Linked DNA regions of Homo sapiens. The protein of the gene in region 2 purifies or fractionates together with the protein of the main gene of each other region. This does not show direct contact. Each region holds a gene or a part of one and is shown on either strand. Other genes may lie near its edges.

Region 1 (5,416 bases), on a different chromosome or scaffold from region 2:
CGTTCACTGAAGGAACAAAGACATAATTCACCCTTCTTCAAAGTCTTAAGTCACATTACACACTCCTCATTGAGAGAGAATTGAAATAAAAAACAGGAAATAGAAATTAAATGTGTATTTACCTGTATTAGACAAACCCACAGTACTGTTTTCTGAAGTAATTGGAATCTGTACTGTTTTGTTGTATCCAGTTTTTATCTGTGAAAGAAAATGAGGAACATGCAATGTCATTTACTAAAGTAGGTCACTTGAAGCCCATGTTAACATAAAAAGAATGGTTAAAGAGATTAAAGTAATTATCCCTCAAATATGAAACCTCTAAAATTTTGGTATATGCATCTTCAAACAAAGCAATTCAGAATTAAAGGTAACAATTGCTTTCAGCTCTACCACATCCAAGGATAACAAAATATAAGGCCACTCATCTTGTCTTTTAAAAGTATTATAGCTCCAAGTGACAAAGTATAAGGGGCTGACAGAAAATCTTATACTCTGTCTCTGTTCAGCATGTACCAGAGACTGAAGTTACCTTTGATGAATTTTATTCTACTGACTAAAAGCTTAAGTTTCCTATTTTACAGCTAACACAGATATAAATAATACACACTTTATTCTGTAACTGTAATTTGTTCAGATAATATAGCAGTTAGTAATTGAGTATGTTAATTCTGATATAGAAATTCCCCATTTTGTGTGATTCTACTTGGGTGAACTATAGCATGCACACATGAAGGAGCAATACCTTCTTAGATTGGATGCCTGGGATTAGCCTCACTGTGTGGGAAAGAAGCTAAGGAACAAAAAGGAAGATGGCCTCACTTCAGTCAAGCAGAGAACAGAAATGGCAAATAACTAAACCAACTGAAACCAAATATGACATTCTTAACATAGTTTTGAGTGATATCTAGGCATATCTTTGTGGAACCATTTTGTCATGCTGGTATTTTCTAACCAATCATGCTCCTGGACACAGGACATGCTGACTTAAAATATGTTTATTGAAAACACAGCATAAAAATTTTAAATAGAAAAAAATCTTTCAAAGAAATATTAATTTGTTAACAATTTTACTGAAATAATTCTATATGTACATAACCAATGTAAAAATGTATAGGGAATTTATGGAGTGCATATATAGAGAAATTTAAGATTACCTGACTTACCTCACAAGAAGATAAAATGTCATTATTTGTTTTGGGAGTGGATGAGGTCTTTGGGATTAGTATTTCAGGAGGAGAAGAAAAAAGACTTAATGTTGAGGCTTGAGGTCCATATTCTCCTGAAGCTTCTATAAGTGATGTACATGACAGATTTTCTGGCTGAATGTTGTCGGATTTTTGTCTTATGAATGCTATCTCCCAAGCAGATTCTAACCTAGTACTAAAAAGAAATCACTTTATGGATATGCTATGAATATAGTACAACTGAAATCCAAGATAATGTTTCAGATGTTATTAAAAAATACTTATTATAAAGTACTTAATACATCTTAAATTACTGCTTTCAAGGAGACATTCTAAATGACTCATTCTATCTCATGGATAGTATAGTTACCTCAACTTGGCTCCGGTAATTATGCTTTTTGCTTCTTCAAATGATACACCAATCATAGATTCCTTGTTGACTGAGACAAGTTGATCTCCTGGCTTCAAACGACCATCCTAACAAAAACAGTAACATTTATAAAGGAACTAATGAGGTATTTAAAAAAAAATTAATTGATGTAATTAAAGCAATGAAAAGTTTTCGTGAAGAATGCCTTCAAAAAGAGTAAAAAGTAAAATCTTAGACAACCTCAGTAGCAAAATCTCTTGATTAAAGTCTGGTTTGGTAACATATATTATGAGTAAAATGGAATGGTTCATGTATTGCATGAATAAATTTACGTGGTAAAGAATTCTTAATATGGTAGGTAGGACATAGGCCAGTATACCAGGAAAAGGGACCTGTTTTAAAAACTGAGCACTATGGGGCTGATAAAGCTCTGACTCTGTGATAAAGTGGGCCAAATAACTGTGGGATATTTCACAATACAAAACTCATTTATTTTATTTTCTCTGCATTCCTACATATGTCCTCCCACCAAACTGTTCAATGTGTGTGTGGATTTATCCCACATTGAGATTTTTAAAACTTTAGTCAAGGGTTTTTAAAAAAAAAAAATTAAATTTTCAAAATTTTTTGTAGAGATGAGGTCTCATTACATTGCCCAGGCTGGTCTCAAACTCCTGGGCTCAAGCAATCTTCCCACCTTGGCCTCCCAAAGTGCTCGGATTACAGGTGTGAGCCACTGCGCCTGGCCAAGGATTTTAATTATATTGATCCTACCCATATTTCAGCATAATCTTTTTTACTATACCTGCTATCCCCCTATGATTAAGGCCTAGTTGGCTGTGCATATATTGTTAGCCATATCCTGCTAATAATGACAATTCTAACTGGCTGCCTGGTGTTGCCTTTGCTAAGGCCTGGCTTGCTCACAGCTAGCCTAACTGAGTAAGACAGAGCATATCAGGAACAAGAGTTAATGTGGTTGTTAGATATGTTAGATAAGTTTCCCAGTTTTTGTCTTTTCTTTTCATTCAAACTAGAAAATAAAAATAAGCTTTCTTCTTTTACAGTTCCTAAGGTATTTCCCTATTTATCATTAATTAGTACAGTGGTAGAAACCATTATTTTTATAACTACAGAAAAAGCTTATATGGTTAAAAAGGGAGATTTTCACCTTGATGGTACTTAAGTAACTTCCACAAATTCAAGAAAACATCTTTCTTTAAAGTCTTATCTACTAAAATATATCCCTTGGATACTGATCTTTGATCTAAGCTGTATTATTTGTAATAATGGTGATTCACAGTTATTTTACTCCTAAATAACAACAGGTATTATTATTTTTTAAAAAGACATGAAGTACTATCTCTTTCACTGACTAAAGAATATATAGGAAAACAACAAAATTGACATAAAACATTCATGAAAGGATTTTATAGAAACATATCTCAAATAGTGTGTAAAAGATTATATAATCTAGATGCATAATGACCCTATCCTACTGAAATGTAAACATTATTTAAAATACTTAAGCCAAAAGAGTCAACTTAATTTTTAAAAATATATAAGCCAGGCACGGTGGCTCACATCTGTACACCCAACACTTTGAGAGGCTGAGGCAGAAAGATTGCTTGAGCCCAGGAGTTCAAGACCAGCCTGGGCAACATAGTTAGACCCCATCTTTCAAAAAAAAAAAAAAAAAATAGCTGGCACATGTCTGTAGTCTCAGTTACTCAGGAGGCTAAAGTGGGAGGATCACTTGAGCCCAGGAGGTCAAGGTCATGACTACGCCACTGCTCTCCAGCCTGGGCAATGAAGCAAAAATCTGTCTCAAAAAAAATATATATATATATAAAATATATAAAATATATATATATTTATATTATATAATATATATATTTATATTATATATATTTATGTTATATATATAATTTAAAAAAAATTTTTGATTTTATGTAAATATGTGATTAAACATAGTTAGCAAAGTCAGACAACATAACATGCAGTGTTAGTACAGAAAAAAAGTTCACATGAAGGCAATTTAGCCCATCTTGTATTAAAGTACACTGATGTATAGAAGCTGCATTTTCTGGCAGGAAGGGAGTCAGAAAAGAGAAGAAGAAGAATGCCTTCTGACTATGACTTCTGGTGTTTACATATTTTTTCTTTCTAAAAAGTATTCATAGCAGTTAGTTTTTTTCTTTGCCTCCTAGAATAAGATCTTAGCTGATCATGTGAATTTCTGAACCTGTTTAAAAGTCAGAACCTGCAAATGAAAACAAAGCTATTTTTGTAAGTCTGGCATTCGAGTGCATTCTGCCCCAGATGGATTAATGTATATGTGAAGATACTAACTTCAGAGATATGTTGAGACCTCTTCCACACAGTCTAGATTCCAATTCAGCAGTTACAGAGCAACTACCTGACATGGGAGGCAATGTGCCAAGCACTTTCATATGCTGAACTTCAGATCTGAATTCTTTCACATTGACATTCATGTAGATGTTGAAATAATAATATATTCCTGACCACATAAACACTTCTGTTAAAAACGACCAGTACTATTCATTTCTATATTGACTTTGGTATATAGTTTTCTAAATAATACATTTCAATATTATGAGAAACCATCTATACAGCCTAATTCTGACTTAACTAACTCATTATACCTAATACTAAGGAATAGTCCTTCTGTAAGCCTTAAGATTCCTTTCCTGTACTTTTACAAGATGTAGACTGATGGTGACCTTCTTTTAACTCCAGTTATTACTGTGAACTGAGGCAAGTTGTTCAGCTTTTATGAACCTCTATTTTCTTAGCTGTAGAATGGGGATAAATATATGTAACACAAGGTTGCTATAAGAATTAAGTAACATATGTAAATTATAGCACATTATACGTGTTAAATAAGATGAAGTGAATGAGACTTCCATATCTGTTGTGGACAATTTTCATACTGATAGCAAATTTAATTATATTACTCATTAGATTGAGAACCTTTGATGGCTGCCAACTGGTAGGAAAAGTTGAAACTCCTCAACATCCCAAACCCAGCACAACAAATTTACTGCAACTTACTTTTTCTAGCTTCATCATCCACCTTCCACACCAGCATATTCTTCATTCTACTCTCAGAGAATGTGCCTCAAACCAGCCATGGTCTTTTGAACCTCAATGTTTTCACACATATGAATTCCCATCTAGAATGCCACCATCCACCCTGCCACTTCTCTGCAATAAACTCTGACTTAAACTTCACAGCCCAATTCAAACACTATCTCTGCTGGAAGTTTTCTCTAGTTGCCCAGGATTTACTTAATCGTTGTGTCTTTTTGCTCAAAAAGCACTTTTACTTACCTAAAGGATTGCACTTACTCTGTATGGTCCTTATGTTTACATATCTGCTTTTCCCTGCCCTCACATTAGAATATACTAAATCAGCAACTCCCAGTCTAGGGGCAATGATTCTTTTAGTGGGCCAGAATCACCAATTCTTTCATTAGGCATAACTAGAACTCTGTCCTTTTCATGGTTATTTCCCTGGTACAGTGCTAGGTACACAGTAAGTCCACAATAGGTTAAAGGGGGCCAAGAAACAGTCTGAGGAAATTAAGGTAGCTATGACAAAAATAATAATGGCAAAGGAATAAAGAGAGTGACACTGCAAAGCGAACCATCTTGGCTGCTACTTCTTCAGCTCCCACCAGTGGGACTGGTTTCTTCATAGTTTGCCATCCAGAGGCCTGATCCTGATATTTATCTAAAAGCCTTAGCCCTGGTTCCAGTGCTATGCTCCGCATGAAAACAGATTTCCTCTGAAAGTTAAATATGTCCTACTTCAATGCCACAAATTACATGATGACAC
Region 2 (5,416 bases):
TACCGCCTCCAAACTCTGTCTAGAAAAGCCACTGACCCTGGCGTGCCGGTGTCACAGTCTCCAGGGAACTCGATACATGAATGGTGTGCTCAGAGCCATGACAGAGGACACGCATGGGGCTTGGGGTCCTTGATGAGGGAGAGCGCATTGCTGTCTAAAAAACTTAGGGAGAATTTCACCAACAGGAAACCCATGAGCGTGGCTTTGAGGGGCAAGTAGGAGTTTTCCAACACAGAAGAGAAGAAAGCATTCCAAAAGAGCAGACATCATGTGCAAAAGCCACAGGCCTGGTGGTGCAGGTGTGTTTCAGTCCCTTCAGGGAAACTCAGAAGGCACGGGAGTGTCTCTTCCCTGAGAGGAGGATGTTACCAGCGGGGAAATATGGCCCAGAGAGAGACAGCGACCAGCCCAAGGTCACACACCAAAACTGTCGCAGGGTCAAAATCAGCTCTGTCCTCCTGCCTCCAAGCCAGGCTCAGGCTGCGGTCCCAGCCATGCTCAGCCACCCTTCCCACCCCCACTCTCCTTTCCCGCTTTTCACCTCTTCTTCTGCCCATCTTTGGTTTCAGTTCTTATTCCCGTCTGCACGCAGCCTTTCTTTCTTAATGACAAACACAGCTTCCCCAAGCTGGCCAGTTGGGGAAGTGGCCAGGGGCAGGGGGATTTGTTTCTTTTCCTGGTGGCTCTGAGGAGCAAGCAACAGGTTGAGCTAAAAGAATGGGGGCAGGGGCTGGAGGATGGAAATCAGGGAAGATGGGGACAATGGGGTCAGTATTGAACATGGCTGGGCAATAAGGATGGCGGTACCAGAGGGGATGCGGTGAAAACAGTGCACCAGGTGTCACCTGGGAGGCACTGGCCATGGTGACCATGTGAGGCGGGGAGTGGCTGTTGGGATGTTGTTGGAGTTGGCGTGGTGATGACAGTGATGATCAGAGATGCTGTTGGTGATGTTGGTGACAGTGATGGGGGTGACGGCAATGGGGACATCAGGATAGGATGGTGATAAGGAATATCATGTGGATGGTGGTGATGACACAAGAACCCCCGATTCTGGGGTTCAAAGACCAGTCCCTTCTGCAGGAGAGCAGGCCCACTCTCTCTCACTCCCTGAGGCCCAGGACCCACCGTCTCAGAAGCAGGCAGGCGGAGACCCACCATCTGAGATTTTCAGGGAGGTAAAGGTTATAGAGAAAGGACCCAGCCGTCAGTGAGCACACACCCGTGCCAGCCAGAGTGTGGACACTTTCCTATCCGTTTACTTCATTGGCTCCTCCTACCAAATGTGCGAGCCCAGGACAGAGGCTGCACAAGAAGACAGGCCCGGGCTTGTCTTCAACCCTTCCCAACAGACAATGCAGTTTGCCATATGGGTCCCAAGTGCCAGAGCCCTCCCTTGCCCCTCCCCCTCAGGGCTGCTCCACCCTGACCCTGTGTCCTACAGCCTCACACTTCTGCCATCATCATTATTATTATGGCCCCTCCCTGAAGCTCAGTCCCCTCAACCTCACCTGCCCACCCTGATTTCCCTGGGTTGCCTGGGAGGAGGATGTGAGAAGGGAGTCAGATGTGTCACCATCAAGAGGAAGCTCCCCTTCCCCACCCTGTGCTTCTGGTCAGAGCTTATGAGGGCTCAGTGGGGGCCAGCCCCCCAAGAGCACTATCTCCCCAACCACCTCTCCAGCCAGCCCAGATACCACCAGACGCCCCCATTCCTGGGGCCACGCACTCCGCAGCAGCCCGGCCTGGCTGCCTGCAGCTCCCCAGAGCCTGGCTTCTCTCTCCTCTTCACTCTTCCGCAGTTCTCGTCCTCACCCGCCGCCTCCACCTCATCCCCTCCTCCCTCCACTGGGCTCTGGGGCTCACAGACCTCAGTGAGAACCCCAGTGCAGCCGCTGATCCCCTGTGGGATCCTGGCCTGGCCATGTTACTTCATCTGTAACATTTCCTCATCTGTAGAAGGGAGAGAAGAATCCATCCACCTCCTGGAGTGGGTGTGAGAAGTAAATCATTGAAGACAGTGATTCAGAAAGATCAACTGAGCAGCACAGGTGCCTGTGTGTGGACACCCAGCACGGAGCCTGGTGGCCATGGCTGCCTTATTTGTAACAGCCCCAAGCTGGAATCAATCCAAATGTTATTTTGCAGGAAAACAGGCAAATGCATTGTGGTAGATTCATACAATGGAGTATACACAGCAATGGAAAAAATGAGTTAGCTACCCGCAACCACACAGACGAAGCTCCCAAACATAACGTTGGGAGAAAGAAGTGCTCACAAAAGAACACGCGCTGCAGAATTTCATTTCTACGTAATTCTACAGATGTATGTATTATAGAACTACATAGACAGGCAGAAGTCAGTGGGGGCGGGGCAGTGGCGAGGCGGGGGCTCTAGGGGCCTCTGGGTGCTGGTCTGATTTCTTAGTTTGGGTGGAGGTCACATGGGTGTGTTCACCTTGTAGAAGCCCACCAAGGTGTGCACTTAAGATAGCTGTGCTTTTCTATAGGTAAATTATACATCAAGAAAAGGTTTGCAAAAATCAAATAGAGATTGGCTGGCACCTCCTGTGCCAGGTTCCACGGGATCATGAAGATGAATCAGGCTGGGTCAAGACCCAAACGAGCATCCAGGCCAGAGGGCACGACTCCCAGGGACCCAGCACACAGGGCTCTGGGTCAACACCCAGAGCTCAGGGTCCAACCGTAGGGGTCAGGGCGGGCTTCTCAGAGGAGGTGGATCTTGAAGAAGATTCCCCGAAAGAGCAATGGAAAAAGTGTTCCAGGCAGAGGAAAGGGCATGAGCAGAGGCCAGTGTGCATGAGACGCATTCAGGAAACGGCAAGACGTTCCTCTTAGTAAACTGTGATTTGGCGTCATCCATGTGCTGAATACGCAGCAGGCCTCAGTAAATGGCAGCAGTTGGCTGGGGGAACACACGGATCCACCGGTTTGGCAGGGGTGGGGCCTCTGGGGTTAGAGAGAAAGGGGAAAGAGCATGCAGGAGATGTGACGGCTCATGCAAAACCTAGAGAACCTAGACTCGGACGGCTCAGATGGCGCTGGAGGAGGTTGTCACCTGCAGCACAGGAAGTGCTGTGACTGGGCGCTAGCAGCTAACTTTGCCCCAAAGGCAAACAGTACCAGTGAATCCCAGCAGCAGAGATATTCTGGCTGGTGGTAGCTTATCAAATCTCCCTTTAGGAGCAGCCAGTGGGGGGCTCAGAGTTGGCCTCCAGGTATGACACAAGGCCCTGTCATTCTCCACTTCCTAGATATCTGGGGAAGCACCCTCCACTCCCCAAACGATTCCCTAAAACCATCACTTCTCCCTTTATCTTCAGAGCAAAGACCCACAATAGTGATAATAAGTATTGATACTATTATTGTTGTGCATTTATTAGACGCCAGGTCCTCTTCTGAACTTATACAGTCGGCCCTCTGTATCACGGGCTCTGCATCTGAGTATTTTCAATCTGCAATCCACGATGTGGAACCTGCGGATAGGGAGGGCCGACTGACCATACACTCTCTCGTGTCAACCTCGCGCCAGTCTTGAGAGACAGGTTCTAACATGAGTCCCATATTTTTCTGATTTTGCAGGTAAAATTGAAATCAGCTCTTTACACATGGGCTCTGTGCTTCTCAGAACAAGGCTCTGGGGATGGCAGAGCTGACCCCCTCCCCCATCCCATGGCTGCCAGGAAGGCTGCCTTCCCTGCCTCCACCTGGAGCAGACACCTGGGCTCGGGTTCTTTATCTAACACAGGCTGCAGAGTCACTTGCCCTCCTGAGCCTGTTTCCTCATCTGTAAAATGGAGGCCCCCGTGGCAGCTGCCATTTTTCCGGTGCCACAAATGGTAGTTACTGAATCCCACTTGACCAGGGAGGAAATTGAGGCTGGGGGACGGGTGCCTTGTCCCAAGCAGCCCCTGTGCAGGGCTGAGGCAGTGCAGCTCATGGCTTTGCTTCCTGCCTCATTAGGGGGTGCTTTGTGCCACTTCCCTTGGCAGGGTGGGGTCCCCTGGGAAACCAACGCTCGCCTCACAGTGAGCTCAGAGCGAAGTCCTGGTTCCAGGCTGATGCTCTAGGCTCAAAATAAAAGCCTCACTTCCTGGAGGCCTCGGGGCCAGGTTGGCAACAGAGAAGTCTCGGCCAGGCCAGGCTAGGCCCTTCAGCCACTCTCTGGGTGGGATGGGCCATGGGGGCCTCCTGCTTTTAGAAGCTGGGGTTCACACCCCTGAGGTGAGGAGAACAACTCAGTTCTGACACTGAGGAGGGGCTACAACTCCCACCCTGCCCCCACCGGCCTCCTCACCCCTCCGTGAAGCGCACAGAGCTGCAGTGGCAGAGAACGTGGCCTCTCTGTCCAGCCCAGGGGCACTGGACATAAAGGTGGCAAGTTCTAACAGATTCTCACCCAGGGTTTTCCCCACCTGGCAGTTTGGACCCATTTTTCAACCCCAAACAGATGAACTTTCAACAGAGGAGTGGGGCCAGGCACTATGGCCCACGCCTATAATCCCAGCACTTTGGGAGGCTGAGGCTGGTGGATCACTTGAGGTCAGGAGTTCAAGACCAGCCTGGCCAACATGGTGAAACCCCATCTCTCCTAACGATACAAAACTTAGCCGGGCATGATGGCACACACCTGTGATTCCAGCTACTTGGGAGGCTGAGGCACAAGAATCACTTGAACCCGGGAGGCAGAGGTTGCAGTGAGCCAGGATCACGCCACTGCACTCCAGCCTGGGTGATAGAGCAAGACTCAGTCTCAAAAAAAAGGGGCGGGGGGCCTTGTGTTCTTCTTCCACAGCCCACTTCAGGCACTCACCTGCTAGCCCTCCACCCGGCTTCGCTAGGGTCTCCTCCAAATGATCACTTTTGAGGCAGGGACCACTGGCCCCATTTACAGATGAGGAAGGCAAGGCTCAGATAACAAAGGTGCCCGCCTGCTCAAGTCACACTGCTGGTAAGTAATGGAGATGGGCCTGTGTTCCTTTCAATCACAAATCACTGCCCCCAAAGTGGAGCAGAGAAAAGAGCCCCAGGAGTTCTAAGGAGGACAAATCAGGAGAGCTTCCTGGAGGAGGAAGCTTCCCGTAAACTGGACCATAAAGAAGAAATGAATGGTGGGAGGCTGGATGAGGGCAGGGCCTCCCAGACAGACACACCACCCCAGCCATGGGGCAGGGAAGGAACTCATTTGCCCACTTTCTGGATCATTCCACACACCTGTGTGCCAGCAGGGGGACCTGAAGCAAGCTCCTGCCCCATCTCTCCATGTGTCCTGGAGCAAGTAAGGGGCCCTGCTGGACCTGTTTTCCCATCTGCAAAATGAGCTGATAGGCCGAAGAGAGATCCATCTTCTTAGCTCTGAAGCTTGTAAAAGCAAAGGACTCGGGCAGGTCCCACCC

What was found. Proteins that work in one complex are often made in the same cells at the same time.
Region 1: the proteins of LAPTM5 (region 2) and STXBP4 purify together in Homo sapiens (affinity purification with mass spectrometry; one large-scale study listed by BioGRID and IntAct). This does not show direct contact.

What each region holds. Positions count from the first base shown.
Region 1 is NC_000017.11:54,995,590-55,001,005, reverse strand, and holds part of STXBP4 (syntaxin-binding protein 4), read right to left. Parts: intron 1,662-5,416; coding exon 1,555-1,661; intron 1,381-1,554; coding exon of another isoform or gene 1,375-1,380; coding exon 1,164-1,374; intron 791-1,163; coding exon of another isoform or gene 743-790; intron 199-742; coding exon 123-198; intron 1-122. UniProt on the Homo sapiens protein: Plays a role in the translocation of transport vesicles from the cytoplasm to the plasma membrane. Inhibits the translocation of SLC2A4 from intracellular vesicles to the plasma membrane by STX4A binding and preventing the interaction between STX4A and VAMP2.
Region 2 is NC_000001.11:30,746,964-30,752,379, forward strand, and holds part of LAPTM5 (lysosomal-associated transmembrane protein 5), read right to left. Parts: intron 5,398-5,416; exon of another isoform or gene 3,381-5,397; intron 2,970-3,380; exon of another isoform or gene 1-2,969. UniProt on the Homo sapiens protein: May have a special functional role during embryogenesis and in adult hematopoietic cells.